Homo sapiens: one gene and its partners. The protein of the gene in region 4 interacts with the protein of the main gene of each other region in a biochemical or structural test. Each region holds a gene or a part of one and is shown on either strand. Other genes may lie near its edges. The genes, in order: MBP, EPN1, CCDC69, MAP3K1, UBXN7, UBAC1 and APEX2.

Evidence for each region.
Region 1: of the proteins of MAP3K1 (region 4) and MBP, one has a biochemical effect on the other in vitro, tested with the Homo sapiens proteins (one study listed by BioGRID).
Region 2: of the proteins of MAP3K1 (region 4) and EPN1, one has a biochemical effect on the other in vitro, tested with the Homo sapiens proteins (one large-scale study listed by BioGRID).
Region 3: of the proteins of MAP3K1 (region 4) and CCDC69, one has a biochemical effect on the other in vitro, tested with the Homo sapiens proteins (one large-scale study listed by BioGRID).
Region 5: of the proteins of MAP3K1 (region 4) and UBXN7, one has a biochemical effect on the other in vitro, tested with the Homo sapiens proteins (one large-scale study listed by BioGRID).
Region 6: of the proteins of MAP3K1 (region 4) and UBAC1, one has a biochemical effect on the other in vitro, tested with the Homo sapiens proteins (one large-scale study listed by BioGRID).
Region 7: of the proteins of MAP3K1 (region 4) and APEX2, one has a biochemical effect on the other in vitro, tested with the Homo sapiens proteins (one large-scale study listed by BioGRID).

What each region holds. Positions count from the first base shown.
Region 1 is NC_000018.10:76,986,284-76,989,783, forward strand, and holds part of MBP (Golli-MBP), read right to left. Parts: intron 2,630-3,500; coding exon 2,594-2,629; intron 2,245-2,593; coding exon 2,212-2,244; coding exon of another isoform or gene 1,807-2,211; exon of another isoform or gene 1,420-1,806; intron 1-1,419. UniProt on the Homo sapiens protein: The classic group of MBP isoforms (isoform 4-isoform 14) are with PLP the most abundant protein components of the myelin membrane in the CNS. They have a role in both its formation and stabilization.
Region 2 is NC_000019.10:55,688,726-55,692,225, reverse strand, and holds part of EPN1 (epsin-1), read right to left. Parts: intron 3,357-3,500; coding exon 3,232-3,356; intron 2,930-3,231; coding exon 2,855-2,929; intron 2,360-2,854; coding exon 2,276-2,359; intron 473-2,275; coding exon 169-472; intron 1-168. UniProt on the Homo sapiens protein: Binds to membranes enriched in phosphatidylinositol 4,5-bisphosphate (PtdIns(4,5)P2). Modifies membrane curvature and facilitates the formation of clathrin-coated invaginations. Regulates receptor-mediated endocytosis.
Region 3 is NC_000005.10:151,214,093-151,217,592, forward strand, and holds part of CCDC69 (coiled-coil domain-containing protein 69), read right to left. Parts: intron 1-3,500. UniProt on the Homo sapiens protein: May act as a scaffold to regulate the recruitment and assembly of spindle midzone components. Required for the localization of AURKB and PLK1 to the spindle midzone.
Region 4 is NC_000005.10:56,818,549-56,822,048, reverse strand, and holds part of MAP3K1 (mitogen-activated protein kinase kinase kinase 1), read right to left. Parts: intron 1,817-3,500; exon of another isoform or gene 1,304-1,816; coding exon of another isoform or gene 1,233-1,303; intron 1-1,232. UniProt on the Homo sapiens protein: Component of a protein kinase signal transduction cascade. Activates the ERK and JNK kinase pathways by phosphorylation of MAP2K1 and MAP2K4. May phosphorylate the MAPK8/JNK1 kinase.
Region 5 is NC_000003.12:196,347,162-196,349,794, reverse strand, and holds the end of UBXN7 (UBX domain-containing protein 7), read left to right. Parts: 3' UTR 1-2,133; downstream 2,134-2,633. UniProt on the Homo sapiens protein: Ubiquitin-binding adapter that links a subset of NEDD8-associated cullin ring ligases (CRLs) to the segregase VCP/p97, to regulate turnover of their ubiquitination substrates.
Region 6 is NC_000009.12:135,951,374-135,954,873, forward strand, and holds part of UBAC1 (ubiquitin-associated domain-containing protein 1), read right to left. Parts: intron 2,381-3,500; coding exon 2,307-2,380; intron 1-2,306.
Region 7 is NC_000023.11:55,003,363-55,006,459, reverse strand, and holds part of APEX2 (DNA-(apurinic or apyrimidinic site) endonuclease 2), read right to left. Parts: intron 2,662-3,097; coding exon 2,592-2,661; intron 1-2,591. UniProt on the Homo sapiens protein: Functions as a weak apurinic/apyrimidinic (AP) endodeoxyribonuclease in the DNA base excision repair (BER) pathway of DNA lesions induced by oxidative and alkylating agents.

The DNA of each region.
Region 1 (3,500 bases), on a different chromosome or scaffold from region 4:
CCAGACTGTCCCTCCTCTATCAGCCTGCAGCCTTTCTTCCATTTCATTAAAGTGTTTTAGGACAGGGAGGACCTTGACCAACCTAGCCCATCTCTTATTTAGAGGTGAGGAAGATGACACCAGAGGCCTCAAGGCTTCCAGAGCACCTGGCTGCACCCTCAGCCTCTGCTGGGGGCTTCCCACCATACAAGCTACTTGCACAGTTTTCTTTTCATTCAGCCTGTGCTTGGGAGTGAGCATGGCCACTCAGAACCAGGCAGCTGCTTTCGTGTGAACAGTTGATTCGGGGGCTATCCAGTGAGGTGAGGGACGGGATGTGTGGCAAGAAGGTCTAAGCACTGCACACGAGGGGACAGCCAGCCTCGCTCTTGCGTCCTAGAGGTTTCCAGGTTCATGCTCACTCCCTGATGGCAGAGGGCAGGTTGCCAGCCTGGCTCTACATGGCAGAAAGCCACTTCCCTGCAAGCGTTAAGTCCTTCTGTCTTACTCTATTGCTTTTCTCCAAAAATAAAGCATTTTTGAGAGCTAAATCCGGGGATTGACTTTCAGATTAACAATCTGCGCGGCCTTTCCTCCTTTCCAATCCTTAGTCATGTTTATCTTTGGGGAACCTAGAATGTACCAGGAAACACACAACACAGCTTAGAAAGAGAAAGTGGGGGCTCTCTGGAACTCCAGACAAGGAGAGAGTCCTGCGGCTCTGGGAAACAGACAAGCAGACAAAATGCAGAGAAGGATTTTGCTTTGGAAAAAAGAGAAATTCAACAGACATTAGTAGGACCCAAAAGGGAGAGATGCAGGGAGGAATGCAAGGGTCTTTCTTGTTAGCTGCTGGGGCAGAACGGCCTGTGTGCAACCCCCCATCGCTCCACATTCAGGGAGGATCCGGCACGACGGCCCCAAAGTCCACTCCTAGAAAATTAAGAGCAGATAAAGCAGTAGCTAAAATAAGATTTCTGGGTCAAAAATGAATTTCATTCTTCTATCATCTTTGTCTCCTGCTGGCATAGAAAATAAAAAATTAATTGTGAGTACTAGTCCATGTACATTTGCTACATGATTGTCATCGTTTTGCAAATTCATTAGGTCAGAAAAAGCAAGTCAAATATGCATTAATGGAAAACGTTTCGGTAAATATCTTAGTTCATAATTCAGTGTAATCATGTGTGGGACTGATCTGGGATCCTCATGGTCTCTCAAGTACCCTGCCCCTTCCTCCCTCTCTTCCTTCCTCTTCCCCACCTTCTGTTTTCTTTCCCTGTTCTTTCTTCCTGTTCTTTCTCCTTGTTGTTTTTCTTTTAAAATGTATTCATTCATTTATATGATGCTTATTAATTGAGCAGAAAGTGTAGGTAGGCTCTGTTCTAGCGTATGAGAGCATTGCAGTTTCGGAGACAGACACAACCTATCTACAATACGTTGGTGGTTATTCCTCCATTTTATTCTAAAATTATAACTTTTATACAGTAAGAATCATATCTGGTATTTGCTAGTAACTAAAGTCTGTAAGTTTGGTTAGAATATAATGATTGGCATTTTAATTTGGCTCAGACACCAAATTTTTTCACTAGAAAGTTCAAATTGGCCATTTTAAACCTTCCTTGAAAGTTTGCTTTCAGTATTAACCAGCCTAAAATTCCTAAGGAAGATTTTCTGGATGGCTTGATATCTATGTTTTAATTATTATTTAAACACATACAAAACAAAAATCTTTGGATTAATGAGGTTATTATAAATCGAGCAACTCTATTTAGCCTCTTTTTCTGTTCATCAGCAGAATCATTTTCCCAGTGTCAGCATCTGGGGTCACTGAGACGGGCCAGCCAGTCCCACTTCCACATGCGGGTTCCTGGGGCTTCTCGCACTGGTTGTGTTGGAGGAAGTTAAACATTTTCTCGGACGTGGTGTTGCTCCCTCCCTGGGAGGGAGACCAGTCACGTCGCCTGGGAACCCTCTGGGAGAAGAGGATCTGGCCTTGCAGGGCTGGGTCCCCGGCACAGAAGCAAGAGACCAGACCTTCCGGAAGGGAAGACCACGTTTCATTTCCCCAGTGGAAGACAAGGCGGCCCGATCCCAGCTGTGGGCAGAGAGGTCTCGAGAGGAGAGAAAAGGAGGCCAGGAAGCAACCGAAACAGAGCAGAACACAAAAGTTGCGGGGCTGTGAGGACTGGGACGGAAGAGGAAGCCGATGGAAGTGCGTTCGTCACCTACCCAGCTAAATCTGCTCAGGGACAGTCCTCTCCCCTGCATGAGGAAGACAGAGAAATAATGACATGGTGGTCAGTGAAGGGAAAGTCCTTTCAATCAACAGGAAACACAGTCAAAGCACAGTGGAGCTGAGGTGGTAAAAACAGGTTCCACCCGGAGCTCCGAGGGGGGCCGCAGGCTCAGGGCCACAGCGGCTGTGCAGGTGCGGGAGGGACAGGAGGGGTGCATGGATCTGCCGACCTGTTCTACTTGGGAGCTGCCTGGCAACACGTTTTGGGATGGATTCTGGTAGCTCGGAGCCTAACTCTCTCTTTGGTACATTATGGGATTTTAGAGAAGGTCTATCAGAAAAGTGATGATCAATCAAAACATTCCAAGGTCTTACCTTTCCCTGCGACGGGGGTGGTGTGCGAGGCGTCACCTGGAAAGACACAGAGAACCGTGGGCTGCACTGGGAGCCCTGTGCCGCCGTCCATTTCCTAACGGGCTCCTGCCTGCTGAGGGTGGCTAGCATCCATCAGCTGCCAGAAGCACCCGGGTGCCCAGCCTCCCCACTTCTGTCCTAGTTGGTGAAGAAGTATAGACCTGAGATTGAAAATATTCTAGATGATGCAGATCTCCCAGAGCACTCAGGAAGTGTTTCAGAGGATGGAAAACACCTCCCAGAGGCTCCGTAGCTGGGGAATGGGCCCATCTTGGGACACTGAGGGAGGCGGCGGACTTTGCTTCACCGTGAGCCCTTTCCGGGGCTAGGAGTAGCGGGCCCTCTGACATTCAGAGCTTCCAAGGGGATGTCCCCAGGTCTGCAGCTCCTAAGTGCACTTATCGAATACGAGCATAAAATGTCTGCTGCACTGAGATCTTGGAATTAGAAGCCTGTGGTTTTGTTCTTGTTTTTAATCGTCTTCGTTTTGCATGGCACTTTTCGGTTTACAGAAAAACTGTGCAGAAATTAGTTTCCACATACCCCGAACAGTTTCCCTTATTAGCAACACTGCCTTAGGGCTCTCTCGGTGCTGTGCACGCTGTGGGTTTGGACAAGTGCGTGGTCTTCAGTCACCATGGCAGCCTCGACAGAGCGGTTTCGCTGCCCGAAAAATGCCCTAAAAATGCCCTGTGCTCTCTCTGCTGCCCCCTCCGCTCCCAGCCCATGGCAAGCACTCTCCATAGGTTGCAAAGCCTGTGTTTTTAGGCTAAGCGTTACATGGGAGCCTAATCTCAAGAGAAGTGAGCTCTCTGGAGAACGCACGGAGCGCACGGTGCAATCCGTGGCAGATACAGTCGGGAAGCGC
Region 2 (3,500 bases), on a different chromosome or scaffold from region 4:
TGTGCTGGGCTCTCATCTGACCCCCGCCCTTGCCCCCTCCCCTGCACCCAGGACGCCCCACCACTGCCCGGCGCCACTGGCTCGATCTGTCCCTGTCCAAGGGCACAGTCAACCAAAGACAGGTGCACACAGGCGTAGGGGCTGCATGCAAGTGGGCCACGCACTCACCATCGGAACTTCCCCATGGATCAGGCGTGGGCCCCTCCCCAGCTGCAGGGGCTGGGGTCCCACCCCAAGGGTCAACTGAGGGTCCTGCAGGGGCAGCAGGCCTCCAGGGGTCCCCAGAGGCCGGCGTGGGGGCTGGACCTCCCCAGGGATCAGCAGCTGGAGGGACAGGGGGGCCGCCCCAGGGGTCCGAGGTGGGGGCAGCCGTGGGGACGGCAGCAGCCATGGGTGCTGGGCCCCCCCAGGGGTCTGTGGTCGGGGCAGGAGCTGGGGCCGTGAAGACGTCAGCAAGGTCCATGAGGGACGACTGTGGGGGAGAGAGAAGAGAAGGAGCATGAAGAAGTGGTGGGAAGCCTGGGACAGGGACCAAGCTGGGGCCCGTGGCGGGGGAGGCGGCCAGGCCCTGGGTGTCCAGACAGCAGCCATCCATAAGGGGTGAGAGGGAGGCAGGCCCCAAACACACCACCTGGCCTCCCTCCTCATCCGTCATGGGGTCGGCCCACCCCTGCCCACCTACCCCACCCGAGGGTACCACCAGGGAGCCCCAACACAGCCCCACTCCTGCCCCACATCCATTCTCCACACTGCAGCAGGGCAGCCCCTTAACTCCACCTGCTCCCAGGTCCTTGCCCGGCCCTGACTGAGGATGGAGGCCAAGCCCTCCCCTCGCTCGACCCGAAGCAGCTCGATCCTCCCTCTGCCCACCGTGCCTTCTCCAGCCAGACTGGCCAGCCCCTGCTCCATGCCTTCCCCTGGGAAGCCCCCCATGAACCCACTCAGGTCAACCTGAGCACCCCTCACGATGCCCCCTACGTTGCCCCGCCGTCACCCCGCAGTCATCGCGCTGCAGGCCTTCCCACGCCCATTGCCCCACTGTCACCCCGCAGTCATCGCACTGCAGGTCTTCCCATGCCGCACGCACACGCATGCATGGTCCTGTGTTCTGGAAGTGGGCACACGACGGGCCCAGCTAACCAGAGCCCGTCTCAGAACGTGCAGATGCCCCCAACATACTCATGCACACATCTCCAGTCAGCACCCGTGAGGCAAAGGCCCCGGCGGGGATGGGAAGGGGAGAAGAGCTGAGTCCAGGGCAGGGCAGGAGAAGAGATGGGTGAGATCTGGTGCTCCCCCAGCAGGGCAGCCCTTACTCGGGTCACTGGGCTGTGGTGGACACTGATAGAGACCCCCTGGCCGAGGCCAACCTAAAGAGGCTTTCCGTCTACCAAGAAAGTCCCACTGTGCCTGATCACTTATGGCCACAAGCTGTCTGCCGCCTCCCATGGAGAGGAGGCCTTGTCCCCACCCCTCAAACTTGGGCTGGCCTCAGGACCTGCTGAGACCAATAGCAGTGCACAGGCTGACGAGGCAACTCCAACCCAGCCCGACGAGCTTGTCCTGGGGGGCGGCAGCAGCAGCAGCTACTGTGCTATGAGGACACTCAGGACAGACTAGTAACCAGGGAGAGGCCAGGGGAGGAGGCTGGAGGGCAAGGCCAGTGCGGACACCCCGGGCCCAGAGGCATGAGTGACCTCAGCCATGACACGAAACAACCAGCCAGCGGGCCCGTCACAGGGAAGTACTGAAGCGTGACCTGGAAGCACAAGGTTGTGGGAGGGTTTGCTACTCAGCTGCAGAGCATGGGGACGCCACAGAAACAGTGTTCGCGAGGGCGGGACCATGCCTCCTCGCTCACCAACAGGCCCTGGGTGTGCAGCACACGGCCTGGCACCAAGGAGGTGCCCGACAAAGTGTGACAGATGGGGCGAGCCCTGCACCCTCCTCCCTGTGGCCATGCCAGGCTGTTGGCCTATTCTGGGCCTCCCCATTCAGCTGTGGCGGCCGGTGGTGGCCCTCACGGTGCTCAGCCCGAAGGGGGATGGCCAGCGCTGACCACAGGAGGTGGCCGCAGGGCAGCCTGGTCAGTCACCGGCCTCAGCCCAGCAGGGAGGGAGAGGCACAGAGAGGCCGACCAAGCCTGGAAACCCGGTGCCCAGCTCCAGGACCTTGTGTTTCAGTCTCTGCTCCAGGGACCTGGCCACGCAGGAATGAGCGATGGGACGGACGGACACCTGCAGGGGCCAGGGAGGGCAGAACAAGCCCCGCTCACCTCCTCCTTGCCCCCAGTCTCCCTCTTGCTCTCCTCGATTGCCATCTGCAGCCGCAGGTCATCCCCGCGACGGATCCGCTCCTCCTGTTGGGGCACGGGCACGACCAGGGAGACATGAGAACGTGAGCCACGGGCAGATGCCACCTCAGCCTGGAAGCCCCAGCAACCCCTCCCACCCCAACGAAAGCGGCTGAAGGATTCGATGGGATGCGGACAATGTATGAAATGGGGATGGGGCACCTGGGTCAAAGGTCAGGCGGGACAGGGGATAAGGGGAGTGGGGTGCTGTGCTGGCGCACCCGGGGAGGACGGGCACCCGCCTCGGTGGTATCTCCTGCGTTGGGGGGAGGAAGGGACCCTGGTCACCCGAGCAACCTTGGCACAGCTGTGCTGGCCACCACCCAGGCTCTGTCTGACTTGTGGTCCTACATCCTACGGCTGAAGGTACTGAGGTTTCAACACGCGTGAGCCTGTGGGCTTCGGGCCCAGCAGGATGGTGGGGGGTGACTTAGGAAGGGGCGACGGGGCTGGTCTGAGGGGAGCCCCTGGCAGGGGCAGGGACAGGGAGGCTGCTCTGACCTTATCATGCTCTTCTCGGCTCAAACTAAGGGCCAGCTGGAGCTGGGCGTCGTCCTCGGGGCCGCAGGACGGGGGCTGGGGGAGAGAGAGTGTGAGGGGCATGACGGGAGGGGCCAGAGGCAGAGTCAGAGGCAGAGCCAGGGTCAGATAGAGCCGAAGAAAGAGAGGGCTGGGGGTCCCTGAACCAGTGAGGGACAGGCAGAGAGTGACACGCAGAGGGACGGCGGGGTGAGGATGAGGCAGGACTGGGGAGGAGACGAGTGACAGCATGTGGAGCAGCGACAGTGAGGGCCAGGCCCACGCCTGGCTGGGAGGGAGCCTGAAGTGAGGCGTGGAGGCGGGTGGCGGACAGACAGCCCCAGCTGCACGCCCAGTACCTGGTCGGCCTCCTCCTTGCTCATGGCCAGGGCCAGCTGGAGCTGCAGCTCCTCCTCCCCGCTGCTCTGCGGCCACGCCTGCTCCGCCTCGGGAGGGGGGCCTGAGCCCACAGCTGCTGATGAGGCTGGAGGGCGGGTGAGAAACGCGTGAGACCCAGACCAGGGAACGAGAGACAGGAAACCCCATAGCCTAGACAGACGGGGGCTTCTGTGTCCAACCCCACCCCCCAAGTCCCCCACCCTACAACCTCTGCAGGCCAAGACTAGGA
Region 3 (3,500 bases), about 94 Mb from region 4:
CAGACTCACAGCTGAGGCTAGAGTCCTTTCCGTCCCCCTGATGCCAGGGTCAGCTTTATCTGAGTAGCTGAGCCTGTAGGGGAGAGGTGATTCTAAGTCTCAAGGGGCTCAGGTCACACCCTCCTCAATATCAGAGCTGCCTTTCCGGTGTCTGGCCCAGCACCACTAGTGCTGGGATCTAAGTAACCACAGTCAGAGCCTATTGGCCGAGGGTAGAGGCAGGAAGGAGGCGGGGAGTGTGGCCCAAGGGGCCCCACTCCAGGGCCTTCGGGGAGGAAGGGCGGGGCCTAAATGATCAGGGCTGTTGAGAAATGTTAGTGTTCACACCCGAATTACAGAAGCTCAGACAGAACACCATAAATACAGGCCTTAGCCTCCCCATCTCTAAGATGGGCAGAGATATTCTGCCAAAGTAATGCCTGAATTTGATGTCATTGAAACTCAAACACTGCCAGGGACATTAAAGATTTAATTCATCCCCTTCATATCATATAGTGTGTGGTCAACATTTCCTCACTGGCTGGAGGACAGTCCAATGTGATTGTACAACCAACTTAAAGTTAGAAGTGCCAGGCTGCACCACTCCGCTGCACCGGGGACACGGCCTATGCTCTGAACACCTGCAGGACCCCCAGAGCACACAAGTCAGGGGCGGATGTGGTCTCCACTGCTCCTATCTGACCAACTGATGAGGTGTCTCAGGGGAGCAAAGGACCACTTCCTTCTTAAATACCCCTGCACCTGGTGAGCCAGACCACAGCAGACAAGCATCAGAAGGGCCTTGAGTGCAAGGCCTCACTTCACAGACGATGACACTGAGGCCTAGAGAAAGCCTTTCTAATACACCTTATTTATTTTCTTCCTCCCTAGGGCTCCCGTTTTCTTGTCCCATATCAGCTTCCCAGGGTGTCTGCTAGTTCTGGTTGCCTCAGAGGGCCTGGAGCTGGCAAAAGCACTAGACATTATTTCTAGCATTTGGGTCAGCCTGGCAGGCAGGACCCTGAAGGAGCTGGACAGAAAATGGTGTCAGTAGCTGGATGGGGGTGGGGAAAGAGACAGGCTGAGGGCCCAGATACCTGTCTCCCAGTCCAATGGCAAACTGGAAGGCCAGAGCCAAGGTCCTAGCTTGCCATCTGAGGCTGAGCGCCTGGATACCTGTCTCACAGTCCAATGGCAAATTGAGAGTCCAGAGCCAAGGTCCTAGCTTGCCATCTGCTTGCTGTGTGACCTTGAGTGGACACTCTTCCTTTTCTGTGCTTCTGTACCCTCCTCTGCATGGCATGGAATTGTGCAATGGGATACGTAAGAGCCCTTCTGGTTTTGACATGCTGTGGATGGGGAAGAAGGGGCAGAGTGAGGTCATCTTGCTATCTCATCTTCTGTCGATCCTGTCCGGCTTGTTTGCTCTGGGCAGGGCAGAGGCAGTTTGACACACTCAGCTGTTAGCTCTGGTCATGGAGGGGGCTTCTCTGGAGAGCAGGAAAGGAGGGTCCCTTGCTCAGGAGGCCTGGGTGAGAACCTGGAGCCCTCCACACCATCCCCTGTTCTTCAGCAGACAGTGTAAGGGTGGTTGTAAAAGAGAGGGCGGGATTGCCTGAAAGCAGAGAATGACAGAGCTCAGCCATCTCCCAAGTTGCACGCAGCATGCTCCTAATTCTACAGTAGCACTGTGAACAGAAATAAGTACCCATTAGTGAGGACAAGGAGGATGCACAGGATGCTCAGGGCAGGACCATTTGCAGTAGGGAAATGCTGTAAACTGAGGACTGGCTGGATATACTCAGGGACATAATACTATGTCATTTCATTCATATGTTTAAGAGAGTGAAGTAGACCTTTATGTACAAAGATGGAAAGGCATTTGGTAAAATACCAATATCCAAACTAAACTATTTCTTTTCTGTCACCCAGGCTGGAGTGCAGTGGTGTATTCTTGGCTCACTGCAACGTCCACCTCCCAGGTTCAAGCAATTCTCCTGCCTCAGCCTCCCCAGTAACTGGGACTACAGGCATGTGCCACCATGCCCAGCTAATTTTTGTATTTTTAGTAGAGACAGGGTTTTACCATGTTGACCAAGCTGATCTTGAACTCCTGACCTCAGGTGATCTGCCCGCCTTAGCCTCCCAAAGTGCTGGGATTACAGGCGTGAGCCACCATGCCCGGCCAACTATTACTAATGATAAAAAAATGCATAGGAAAAAGTACCTAGAAAAGCACAAACTGATAACAGTTGTCATCTCCAGAGAATGGACTAAAATTACTGTGGTCAAGGAAGGGTAGCTTCCATTTTACATTTTACCTAAATTATTAGGATTTTTTTTTTTTTTTTTTTTTTTTGAGACTGAGTCTTGCTCTGTCACCTAGAGCGAGTGGTGTGCAGTGGTGCGATCTCGGCTCGCTGCAGCCTCTGCCTCCCAGGTTCCAGCGATTCTCCTGCCTCAGCCTCCTGGGTAGCTGAGATTACAGGCACGTGCCACACGCCCGGCTAATTTTTGTATTTTTAGTAGAGACGGGGTTTCACCATGTTGGTCAGGCTGGTCTCAAACTCCTGACCTCAGGTGATCCGCCCGCCTCAGTCTCCCAAAGTGCAGGGATTACAGGCGTGAGCCACCACGCCTGGCCAATTCTTAGGATTTTTAAAGCAACAACGCATTCAAGAATTACTTATATACAAAGAAATTAACAACAACAAGAAAAAGGTACCTCTCTTGGAACCTGAAAGCCTCCCCCAGAGTCAAGGTACAGACAGAGAAATCAAGGCTGGGGAAGAGAATAGTTAGCAAAAGAGGCAGAAGTGGACCCATTGTTAGAATGATGAATACCAGAGGTTGGGAAGGACGTGTGTGTGGGGTGCGGGGAATGAAGAAAGGCTGGTCAAACGATACAAACATACAGCCAGATGGAAGGACTACATTCTAATGTTCCATAGCAACCATGAACTGTATACTTTAAAATAGCTAGAAGAGAGGACTTGAAACGTTCCCAACACATAGAAATGATAAATACTCGAGGTGATGAAACTCCAAATACCCTGACTTGATCATTACACAGTCTATGCACCTAACAAAATATCATATGTACCTGAGAAGTATGTAAAATATTATATATCAATAAAAAATATAAAGAAGTAGGCCCCATTCTTGACTCCCAGTCCAGTGCTCTTTCCTCTACAGATGCAGCTGCTGGTGTCCAAAAGCAATGGGCCCTGTCCAGGCACCTCCTTGTTTACAGTGCTGCCTCTTCTGCTGCCAAGATGGGTTCCAAAGGGAGGCACTGGGTTCTTGCTGTCATTTTTGATTGCTGGCAACTTGGGGCTGGGGGTGAGAGGGTGGGTAAGGAGCAATTAACCTTGCGATATGAAAGTTTCCTAAAGCTGCTGTAACAAATTACCACGCACTTGGTGGCTGAAAACAACAGAAATGTATTCTCTCACAGTTCTGGAAGTTAGAAGTGTAAATTCAAGGTATCAGCCGAGCTGGCTCTTCTGGAGGCTCTGAGG
Region 4 (3,500 bases):
ACTCCGTCTCAAAAATAAATAAATAAATACCAAACGATATACAAAAACTCCTAAAAAAAGACAGTTCTTGCCTTCAAAACTCGTCTTAAGCTAGATCATGATTAAAATCTCACTACAGTAAGTTAATCTTCAGATATACTAATTTAACCACTTTTGGAAAATTAATTCATGTTAACATTTCTGGGTACCTAATATTCATGGGTGCCAGACACTAGTCTAGATGCTGGGAGATGGTGCAAAGAATCAGATAAAGTTCCTGGTCTGTTAACAACTGATGTTTAGTATTCAGAATACCATAAGACCAGTTTGAAGATTATGTGTTAACATATAACTTAAATTATTGTTTAGGCAATGAAGAAAAGTAAAGCCAGACACAGTGGCTTGCACCCATAGTTCCAGCTATGTGGAAAGATCACCTGAGCCCAGGAGTTCGATTCCAGCCTGGGCAACATAGTGAGAACCCATTTCTAATTTAAAAATAAAAAAAGAAAAGTAATGATAACATCTGTCAAGAGCAAAGCTTCCACCTACACCCCAGTACTGACCCTGTTCTCACTCCATGTCTATCCATCATTATGCTTACAAGTGATGAACTTAGTTAACGTACTAACTACAGTACTGTGTAGGCTGTCCCATGTGGCTCCAAGCACTTTCTCCAGGCTTCAAGAGGTCTGGTGGCTTAGTAATTCCCAGGTGACAGATGTGTACTTGCAGAATTATACACTTGGTGAGTTTTAACAATTCCCCTTAGTATGCTACAACATCTCCACATCTCGATCAAATTAACATCTGCATCAAACCAGCCTGGTATTCCAAAGGACTCAATCACTAACAATACAGAACTCCCTTCCATACCAAACATAACTCAATCACCAATGACATGCCATAGAGTAAATAAAGACAAGGCTATCTTCTTGATCATCTTATGCCCTAAAGAATATTTTATATTTCTCCATGTTGTTTTCGTAACTAGTAGAGTTGCTGTTACTAATAATAAAGACAGAATTTCAGAACTAGCAGTAGCAGATGTTGAATTTCTTGCTCCCCGTATCTCCTTTTTAATTTTCCCTTGGAAGAAAAAAAAACATGCCTGAACATGCAGTGTTGTATATATTCTTATCAGAAAATAGGCAGAAATAGTTTGAAACTAATATGTTGTATCCCCTCTGTATCCCCATCTCTCTTATAGCACTTAACACGGTATTGTGAAACATGTTCATACTACAACCTACCGACAGAAACAGCTTGTGCACTCATGATCTTTTTCTCCACCACTCAAGACCACCACCTTGCAGAAGTTCATAAATGTTGAATGGATGAAATCTAAAACAATAACAAAGGGGTAGGGTCTAGCAATAGTAAAAGTTTCTCTTCCTGTGTGATTACCATGAATGAACCATATTAATTTCAGCTTATCTCCTTTCACTTATGATTTAATACAGCACAAATCAATAAATCTAAGAAACATTCAACACTAATGACTAACCCTCTTTGGCTGACATGATAGGGTGATCCAAATACAGTTTACTTGTATTACATATACAAGGCCAGGTTACAGAAACATACCTATTATATACATTAACAGGCAAACTTAGCACAGGGTAGAGACCTAGCTCATGGTCTATTAGAATGCCTGCAAAACAAATTTCTCCTTAAAAATAATCAATTAATTTGATTATTAATTTGAAAAAAGAAAATGGAAGAAGCAGAGTAGTGGAAAGAAATGGACTGTGGAGTCAGTCTGACTTGGGATTGAATCCTAGCTGTCTTCTAGTTGTGTAATCATGAGGTTTTACCATCTCAGATGAGTTTGCACCTACAGAAAACAGAAATTACACTATCTTAGGGGGCTGCAGTGATGATCAAATGAGATTATATATAAACATATATATAATACATATAATAGATATCATACACACACACAGAAGGCAAAAGAGTTGATTATGTAAAAGGTATCTAGGCATATCTATATGCTCAATGAGTATGTTTTAAGCCACAGATAAAATCCTAATATATTTTTGCAAACTGAAAAGAGTATCTGACTAATCTCATGCTTTGCAATGAACCATTTACTAATTCCGGCCCTGATTATTTCTTTCATGATTAAACATGTTCTTAAATAATTTCTTAAAGACAACTTTGGGTTACTCCTAATCTTACACATTTCCTCACATTAATAGTCTACCATTTACATGTTTAAGTTGCTTTAGCTTTTAACTTAGGATATAGAAAGAGGCAAGGACTAAGGAAAACAACCAAGTCTATACTTGATATATTTGATAGAAGCAAAGAATTCCAAGATTAGAGGTGTAATATACACGCAGTTCCTAAGCAGCCTCTAGAGACTACTACTTTTCCATGACACATTTTCCCATCGCCTTCTGTGTAACAGACAGCCCTCAACCCAAGAAGATGACTGGAGTACAAAATGCAAAAGAGGTGCTTTCTACCTGAGAGCATTTCTGAATGCCCCATATTTTTCCTCATGGTAATCCATTCCCCATTAACTACCTTGCCACCCCCTCATTTCTTCCTTTGGGATGCACACAGCCAGTGTCAAGGACTGATTAGCCGACTCAGCCTAGGCAAGCTGTAGCTGGTTTTTTTTTTGCTCTTGTTGAAAGCAAAAAAACACTCCTTTCTTCCCACATTTTGAAATCTGCAAGTTGACAAGTCAGTGGCCATTTCTAAAATATGCAACATATTATGCTCGAGGTGCTATGGAAGTTGTAAATGAATATCAATGAACAGGGCTACTTCCTGTTTTTCGTATCTAACAAAATGGAGTTTTAGTGCATTGGAAATCGTATATTAAGGAATGTTGGTTAACCAGTCACTCTTGCCAAAATCAGATATGAAAAGAAAATAAAAGTTGGCAACAATTCTAGCTCTTATATTTCTCTTCCAGAATTATATTAAGGTTCATCTTTGAAGAATGCATTAATTTTCTTATCTGATTTAAAATGAAACTGACACCATTCTTAACTAAAAACTTACAAATTCACGGAAGACTAACTTATGTGACTACCTTTATTTTTATAAAGTCACCCACTTAATATTTTAAGAGTAATTTTTAGGTAATAATGCTCTTATACCTCCTCTTTAGTAAAAGGTCACTAAATCATATTTTTAGCCTAATAGCTTTAAAAAGGAAGTGAAATCTGAGGGCTATATGAGGATATAAAAGCAGCCTGTGAAATACCTTTAGTTTTAAACAAAAACTAACATTAACAAGTACAGCATATCTTGTTCTTTCACGGGGCCAGCAAATTGATAGTTTGGTTTTTTAAGTTACAAAAATAGGATGGGGTAATTATATCTACCAAACTCACAATAGGCTGTTCAATGGAGAGTAACACTGTAATTTTTCTTCAAAGACAGTAAATAGGAAGAAAAAGCCCCTAAATTCTGTAATATAAGGAAAAATTCCAAACCCTTGGGCGCCACTTACAGGCACTTTCACTGATTTCAGCTATCACCCTGAAAAAGAGGGACAAACT
Region 5 (2,633 bases), on a different chromosome or scaffold from region 4:
ACATATCAAATCATTAGATAAATTCTGACCTGGAATTGAATTCCCCCTTTCTTAAAATCTTTTTAATTTGCTTTTTTCATAGACTCAGTATGGAACTCTTAACTGATAAGGGAGAGATTCTTGATCTGGAACCGTTCCCTGCCATTCTCCTTTTTTCTCTCTATCTAGGTAGCTGGTTCCATAGTGCCCGTCACGAGGGTCCATTTCAGTTTGATGACATTAGACTGCTTACACTCAGCTGGATGCCTTGCTGTTTGCAGCAACATGATTTTACAGTATGCTTTTCTCAAAGCTTTGCATTCTTAATGGAGATATCAAATGGTGTAATTCCAAATATAAATATGTTTATGACACTAATCATATGCTTTTAACAATAACTTTTTGATAACTTATTGCCCTGTAAGTTAAACCTTACACGGAGTGACTGTTGCCATCAGAAAATCCCCTTTCACCTGCTAGAGAGAGTGAAAGTAGTGCGTGGCCTCCACTTTTCAGTTAACGAGTAGCAAGCTTCTAGTAGGGGCTGCTTATCTGACCCATGTGGGGTCTTGGGCCTTGTTACTTTCCTGGGTTCGTCCCTTCAGCTGGAAAGGCTGTTGAAAACACTTGCCAGGAAACAGTAAAGCTGTGAGAGAATCTTCTAGTCTTAGATATAGAGAAATGAGTACCAGTTGATGCTAACACGATACTTAGACTTTGAGGGGCTTCCATCCAAGCTTTGGCATGAATCTGTTAGACACGGTTTTCTTCACTCCTCTGATAATCTTTTTTTCCAGAATGGTTTTTTGTTGTTGTTGTTGTTAACAAATTCTAAACATCCAGTGTTACTTTTTGTTTTGTTTGTTTTGTTTTGTTTTGTTTTGTTTTGTTTGCCCTTCAGGAAAGTCCTTTTTCGAGTAGGTATTGATTGTTCCCTGGAAACTCTCAGCAGTGTCTGTGCAGGCTCTGTGCATGCTTTGTATGAGTTCGGCTTGAACAATGCATTTGAAGTCACCTGGGATGTCCAGTTCTGGCATGTCTTCATTGATTGTGTTTTTAAACATGTTTCATGTTTCATGTCATTTTCCAAACCTCACTTTACATCTTACTCAGAGAAGTTAATCAAGGAATGAAATTTCTAGGGGGATAGGGATGATGAGGGTGGGTTGGGGGCTTGAGTGAAGTCAACTTGGGGTATTTGCTTTAAAGTGTTTTCTAAAGCAGTTCCTAACAGTATTTAGAGATTCCCTGGGATGTTTGTGGCTCAACTTATTCTGGACAAAGTGTGTGTGGGGGTGGTCTTACTGAGATTTGCATTCTTAATGCAGGACAGGCTCTAAATTTCATCTGTACTCTAAATTTGTGATTGAATCCAAGAAGATAACAGAGACAGTGCTCCTGTTGTAATGTTTCTGGCAAGTGCTCCCTAAAATGCACATCGAATTCTGTTTTCTGGGCCTTTTCTCCAATGGTGCTAGGAGATACCGTTGATTTCTGCAGCTCTTCTCAGTGGTGGGAAGAAGTCTTTGGGATTGTTGAGCAAGGGGCAGCTGGACCATCCACTAAATTTTTTTGTTCAAGACACATTAGAGACCCTCCTGTATATCTAGTAAGTCATAATAAAGGTGCTTGGGAAAGCCTTAAATTTGAAGACACATGGAGGCGGTAGAAAATTAAACTTGTAAGAGGAGAAAAACATGCCATTAGGTAACGCAGAGTTGTAACTACTGGCTAAGACTCAATGGAACTTCCACTTGCTCTAAAACCAGGGAAATCTTAGATAACTGGGTGTGATCTACCTATAGATCTACCTAGTCTATAGGTAATAATTTCCAGAAGGAGGATCTTGCTGTCAGTTGGGGATCCTCTGGTTTGGTCTGTACCAAATTGTGAATACTCTTGCTGTGTTGTACCCAGTTGCTTTATATTAATACTGCAACTTGAAACGGGGAGGGTGGGGGGACAATGGGGTGGGGGAGGGAAGGGAGTGGGACGATAAGTCTTTTGAAGACATCAGCTCACTGTGCTGAGAGAGGGACCAAACTCAAGGAAACCTCTGATCTATACATTCAACTGCTGCATTTTTTTATAAATACATGTAAATGTCCTGTTGTAATATTTGATCTTGGAAATAAAAACAAAAACTTTTCAGTATTAGTTTTTTTTGTGTTGTTGTTTTTACAAGATAAGACTCTGGATATTACTTTCAGTAATACAATTGAGATTCCAAAAGCTTGCCCCCTCACGTTCTCATTTAGGTCAGTTACTATTGATTGACAAAGGTTACTTTGTAGTCCCGTTGTTATGTGTAACGTTTGCTAGCCTTTTTTCTGCTCTTTGTGGTATGTCAAACATTCATGGTAAACACTCTGTAAATATTAGTCCAGTTGTTACAGAAACATTGGGTAAGCTAGGCTTGTTAGGTAAGTATGATTCTGTGTTTGACATACTTGGGCGAATATTCAGTGTCTGTTCTTTCAGACCAGCAGTAATTACTAATGGTTAATTAAGGACTTAGCTTAATTGAAGGAAAGATAATTACTAAATTAATGGGCAAAAAGGAGATACGATTATATGGTATGACAGAAATTGTTATTGCTGCTGGATGCAGTGGCTCATGCATGTAATCCCAGCCCTTTGGGAGGCTGAGATGG
Region 6 (3,500 bases), on a different chromosome or scaffold from region 4:
CAGCTACTCGGGAGGCTGAGGCAGGAGGACTGCTTGAGCCCAGGAGGTCAAGGTTGCAGTGAGTTATAATTGTACCACTGCACTGCAGCCTGGGCAACAGAGTGAGATCCTGTCTCTAAAACAAAAACAAAAACTAAATTAAAAATTAATGTAGGCCAGGCGCAATGGCTCATGCCTGTAATCCTAGCACTTTGGGAGGCCGAGGCAGGTGGATCACCCGAGGTCAGGAGATCGAGACCAGCCTGGCCAACATGGTGAAACCCCATCTCTACTAAAAATACAAAAGATTAGCCGGGCGTGGTGGCACGCACTTGTAACCCCAGCTACTTGGGAGGCTGAGGCAGGAGAATCGTTTGAACCTGGAAGGCGGAGGTTGCAGTGAGCTGAGATCACGCCACTGCACTCTAGCTTGGGTAACAAAAGCGAAACTCTGTCTCAAAAATAATAAAATAATAATAAAAATAATAATAATTAATTCATAAAAATATGAACTGACATCTTACAATGTTTCAGTTTGCAAATATTTGAAGAGAAAAGGTAAGCTCCTCAGGTTAGCTCCAAGCTACCCATCCAAGAGGCTGTGGGGCAACGGGTGTATGGTCAGACCCCGCTGTTTATATTAGTTACGGGCCTGTAAGTCTGAACACCAACGGTCAAACTGTAATCTGAGAACTGTGAATGCTGCCTGCAGCAGTTCCCAGAAACAGGCCTGACTCAGGGACAGGCGGAGGCAGGCCCAGATCTGTCCGCTGCAGATGGGTGGGGCGGCAGCCTGTGTGTCACTCATGCGTGGCCAGGTGTGGCTGAAGATAAGGAGGGGACCCAAGCCCAGGGTGCTCTTCCTGGGTACCCATGGTCCCAGATGAAACCCAAAAATAGCTTATGCACTACCAGGCATGGGCCTAGCCCAAAAGAGTTTGACCTGCTCTTTCTCTGGGGTGAACACTCTCCTTAGCCTTTCAAAGCACGAGTAAGAAATTCTACCCTTGAGATGAGTAATGCAAAGACAGCAGAGGAAAGTGGCTGCCCTTCTAGCTGGCAGGCTCCATGCTCGGCACGGGCTCAGGCCCTGCTGTGGGGTAGGACACGCCACTTGCAGAACGCATCTTCCTCTGCTCAGTGAGCTTTCCAAAACATGAGCTTCTAGGGCAGCCAGTAAACAACACACTGCACGGTGTTCCTAAGGTACACGTGCAAGTGGACGGTGCAGACCATGAATCAATAACGTGTGAGTGAATGTAAACACCAACGACATCCAGTTCTGTTTTGCAAGAAATAGACAAGACAGGCAGAACTCAGCCTCTCTCAGCATTAACAGTGCAGCTGAGTATCCCTCATCTGAAATGCCCGGGACCAGAACTGTTTCGGATTTCGGGTTTTTTCAGATTTGGGAATATTTGCATTCCAAATAATCAACTCAAAAAGCACCAACGAGCACTTCCATTAAGTGTCATTTTGGCACTCAAAAAGTTTCAGACTGCGCTGCATTTCTGCGTTTGGATTTTCCGATGGGGATGCTGAGGCTGTGCGGTGTGAGGTGGGGCTTGTCGCGAGTGCTCCCTCACCGGCCACTCTCTGCATGCGCAGCCCTTATTCTGTGTGGTGGTTGGTTACCCACTTTCCTCCGTTTTTCTGTCAGGACTGACTTGGCTGCTTGAAAAGAGGAGGGAACAGGAGCACACGCAGGTGAAGGCGGACAGCAGCGCGGGAGTGAACCGTCACGCAGGATGTGTCCCTACCCTCCTCTCTGTCTCAGAAAACTCAGAGGCAGGTTTTCCGTGCTGGTCCCGTGAGCAGGGAGGGACCAGGACTGACACGGATTAAACAGGCTCTGCCGGGAGAGAGAACCCCTTATAACCACATCTACTGTAAATGGCGAATGCGTGGGTTGGTGAACAACTAGTATAGAGAACTTCTTTATAATTCTTTTTTTTTTAAGTTTGTATTTATTTATTTAATTTTGAGATGGAGTCTTACTCTGTCGCCAGGCTGGAGTGCAGTGGCACGATCTCGGCTCACTGCAACCTCTGCCTCCCGGGTTCAAGAGATTCTCCTGCCTCAGCCTCCTGAGCTGCTGGGACTACAGGCATGAGCCACCATGCCCAGCTAATTTTTTTTGTATTTTTAGTAGAGCCGGGGTTTCACCATATTTGCCAGGATGGTCTTGATCTCTTGACCTCGTGATCCACCCGCCTCGGCCTCCCAAAGTGCTGGGATTACAGGCGCGAGCCACTGTACCCAGCCTGTAATTCTTAAATGTAGACTTCTACCAACCAAGGTCCCCAATTGCAAACTTTGAAATTTACCTTTTCTTCTGCTGAGACATCAGCCATCTTGGGAAGTGGTGATGGAGCACGCTTTTTTATCAATAATAGGACATCTAGAAAAAACAACACGTATATCCAACACACTGGTTATCACTTCATATCCACAAAATGGCATAAAGGGTGCTGGATGCCCTGAGAACAGAACAGCAGGGATTCGGCCGGGCGCAGTGGCTCCCATCTGTAATCCCAGCACTTTGGGAGGCTGAGGCGGGCAAATTACCTGAGGTCAGGTGTTCAAGACAAGCCTGGCCAACACGGTGAAACCCCATCTCTACTAAAAATACAAAAATTAGCCAGGCGTGGTGGCGCATGCCTGTAATCCCAGCTACTGGGGAGGCTGAGGCAGGAGAATCACTTGAACCTGGGAGGCGGAGGTTGCACTGAGCCAAGATTGCACCACTGCACTCCAGCCTGGGCAACAGAGCAAGACTTCATCTTAAAAAAAAAAAAAAAAAAGAAGAAGAGCAGGGCTTCAGCTGGGTGCAGTGGCTCACTCCTGTAATCCCAGCACGAGGCAGGCGGATCACTTGAGCCCAGGAGTTCAAGACCAGCCTGGACAACATGGCGAGACCCCATCTCTACGAAAATATAAAAAATAGTTGCGCATGGTGGCACATGCCCGTAGTCCCAGCTACTTGGGAGACTGAGGTGGGAGGACTGCTTGAGCCCAGGAGGTCAAGGCAACAGTGAGCCTGACTGTGCCTCTGCACTCCAGCCTGGGTGACTGAGCGACACCCTGTCTCAAAAGAGCATGGGTTCCTTTGGTCCCCCCAAACCAAGCATCTACACCAGCCTTCCCTCACTTTTGCATGATATCTGCATGGCCCTAGCTGAGGTACAAGCTCCCAGGCCTGGCACGAACCCCCAGGTGACCCATGGCCCAGGAGGCAGGCACAGCACGGCCCCAATAATTGTGCAAAGAATTGGTGACAATCCTGCAACAGGCATTTTAACCGGCTCAGTTCTGAAAAAGTCTGTGAGGGTGGAGAGTTTAGTCTTAACCCTCAGAGGTCAAAACCTGAGATGCAGCTCATCCTCGGCCCACGACGGTGCCCATCCCCCACTGGCTTGGAGCTTGATGGTCATCTCAGCGGATATCTGTTAGCAATACTTCCAGGATTTTCAAAACAGCTTACTTCAAGGACTTCCACAATTAAAGGCATTATTTGAATG
Region 7 (3,097 bases), on a different chromosome or scaffold from region 4:
GGAAGGGACTTAGACTAACTGCTGCATTTTGCAAATAAGAAAATTTGGTTGTCCCAAGAGGACTACTGCTCAAGGTCACACAGTCCGGAATTGGCAGAGCTGGGATTCTGATTTTCATCCTTACTGATTTAAAAGACCATGCTTGTTTTTCCCTCTGCACGAGCTTGCATTTGTCTTGCATTGGTCCGTCAATGGCAAATCTGAAAGTTTGCTTACTCAAAGCAATTCCTGGAACTGCTTTTCAAAAGGATGGAAAACAGGAAGTTAAAAGTGTTTGCCTCTAGGAAGCAGGGCTGGGGTTAAGAGTTAGGAAGACTGTCAGCTTCTTCCTTTAAACCCTCTGGCACTATTTGGTTTATCTAGTGTGTCAAAGCCCTCAATGACCATTCCTACCTCCTGAGCTGAGGACCTGCAAGGATCCAGGTCTGAATACTTCCTTAGGCTCTGATCCCCAATCCATCATCCATCAGTCCATCCATTCAATCCACCTACCCACCCACTCATTCAATGCAAGAAATGTTCATGGAATACCTATTATGTGCCATGCATGATGCCAGGGACAAAGTAGGAACCTGATCTACTCCTGGGGACCAAGGAGGCTTCCTTTCGAGAAGTGATCTGGAGCTGAGGTGTGGGGGCTGAGTAAGAGTAACCTAGGTGGAGGGTGCTCCTAACTTTAAGAACAGTCTCTGTGCTGGGCCTGTGGAGGGAGTGTGCTGCGTACCCAAAAGACTTGAGGAAAGACCAGACTGGAGACCAGAATACCAGCAGGAAATGGCTGCCATAGTCACACAAGCAAGATGATGGTCACTTGGACTAGGGTGGGTGCCAGAGGAGACAGAAACATGAAATTATGAGATGATTTGTAGCTAGAATCAACAGTACTTGCTGACTAACTGAATGTGGGAAGTGGAGTAAGAAAGAAAGACAATACTAGCACAATTCCCAGGCTTTAAGTTGAAGCAATCAAGGGGATGATGGTGCCATTTACAGAAATGACAAGACTAAAAGAGCAAGCCTGGTAGAAAGTGGGTATGTTCTGCTATTTTGGAAAGACTGTGTAAGTCATCTGAGCTGGCACTATTAGTTCTCTTTTCCTGGAGGAGAAAATGAAAGAGGTATACATAAGAGATCTAGGATACCTCTGAACTAAGTAGAAAAGGCACAAAGATGTATGATGCTATCACAGGAATCTGAAAGAACACACTGAATGAATGCATAAGAGGAATGAGGCAGGGAGGGACTGAAGGCTCACACTTTGTAGCATTATCTCCGCTCCCCACCACACCACCACCACCATTCTCTCATTCTCTCACTTCTGCTCATTTTCCCAGCTGGGAGCCATATCTACATTTATGTAGCTCTTCTGTGAATTAATCAAGGAATATTCCCACGGTCCCTTCTCTAAGCCAAGCCCAGTGCTGAGTAGGACTGTACCAGCATAAATCACTGATCCCCCATCGTGAGACATAAGGCAAGAAAAGATGAGAGCTGGCTTGTGGATTCTAGGGCAGTGGTTCTCAAGCCTGGCTGCACAATAAAGTCACACTGGGGGCTTTTAGAACGTGCCACTACCCTGGCCCCACACTCGAGAGTTCTGAGTTCATTGATCTGGAGTAGTGCTAAGATATTGATATTTTTGTTCTAATATGCAGTTAGGGGCTGAAAACCATGGGCCTAGGGGAACTTAGAGATAAGAGGTTCATATAACAAAAAGACAGGGAGGGGGTCATGTCCACCAATTCAGGGCACAGTGAGAAAAGCCAGAATGAGAATAACTTTTACAACGGGCCGACAGGAGACAACCTGTCTAGAGAGGACAAAATGTGTAGGGACACTGAAGGTGGAAATAAGAGACAGGTCACAGACCAAGGAGAGCCTTGAATGCTAGGTCTCCATGTTTTCTCTGCATCACAGAGGTAACAGGGAGGTACTGAAAGTTCATAAACAAGAAATACAGTGTATTAAGGAAATGACCAAGGCAATGTGGAATTCACAGTCCTTGAAATCTGACCCCCAACAACTCTCCAGCCCCACCTTCTGCCACTCACCTCCCTTCCTGTGTCACTAAGAAGAAAGGGACTTGTGGTTCCCCATGCACACAATGCAAATTCTCACCTTGAAACCTTTGCCCATGCTAGAATGCTTTCTACTTCAAAGCTCTGTTCTACTCATCTGTTAAGATTCAGCCATTTTCAGCTGCCTGTCCTGATGTCCGAGCTCACCTAGGAATCCCATCTCTGAGCTCCTGTAGCTTTCTGGGATGCCATCTGTGCCTCTGCCCTGAGAATACCATCCTATAATTGGCTAGCCATGTGTCTGTAGCCCACCACCATGCTGGAGAGCTCCTAGGAGCCAAGGGCTGGATCTGACTCCTGAGTCCTCAGTATGTGGCTCAGGGCCAGGCCATGGGCAGAGTCAGTATTGTCTATTGAATGAATGACCAATCCTCAGTACTATAAGAATAGTATTGCAAGCCAAGCTCCGCTTTCCCATAAAGGAAGCTGTCCCTGGGCCAAAAACTCAGGGTTGGTTGGCTGGACAAACAGAATCAGTCAGGAGTGGGGCCAGGCACCTAGAGGGAGCCTTACCAGGTTGACTGCATCCCAGTGGTCAATGGGGCGGTGGGCTGTATTCAGGTCACCCAGAATGATCACATGGCTGAAAAACACAATGTGGGATTGTTAGAAAGGGGTGCAGCAGTCCTGGCCCATATACTTTTTCCTGGGCCCAAGAGCTCAGACAGGCCCTCTCCCATATTGAGGCTTCCTAGCCAACAGCAACTCATAACAGCCTACCTCTCCAATCTTACCACAAACTTGCTGCCTTTCATATCTGACCAACCCAATTCTGATCTCCAAAGGTGACAGTGTTCCATGTTTGACATGACTGCCTCACTAATCAGGAGCCAATGGGCATTTTTCTTGTCCTTCAAAGCTGAGCTCAGATACCACCTCCCCTTGATTGCTCTAACCCACCCTCACTTTCCTGTCCTCCGCTGGAACAAGACTTTCCTTTGCTCCCACGCACTTTACCATTCTCATCTCATTTTACCCTTAAAACTATTGTGTAGGGTAGAGATTCATATATTCATTTG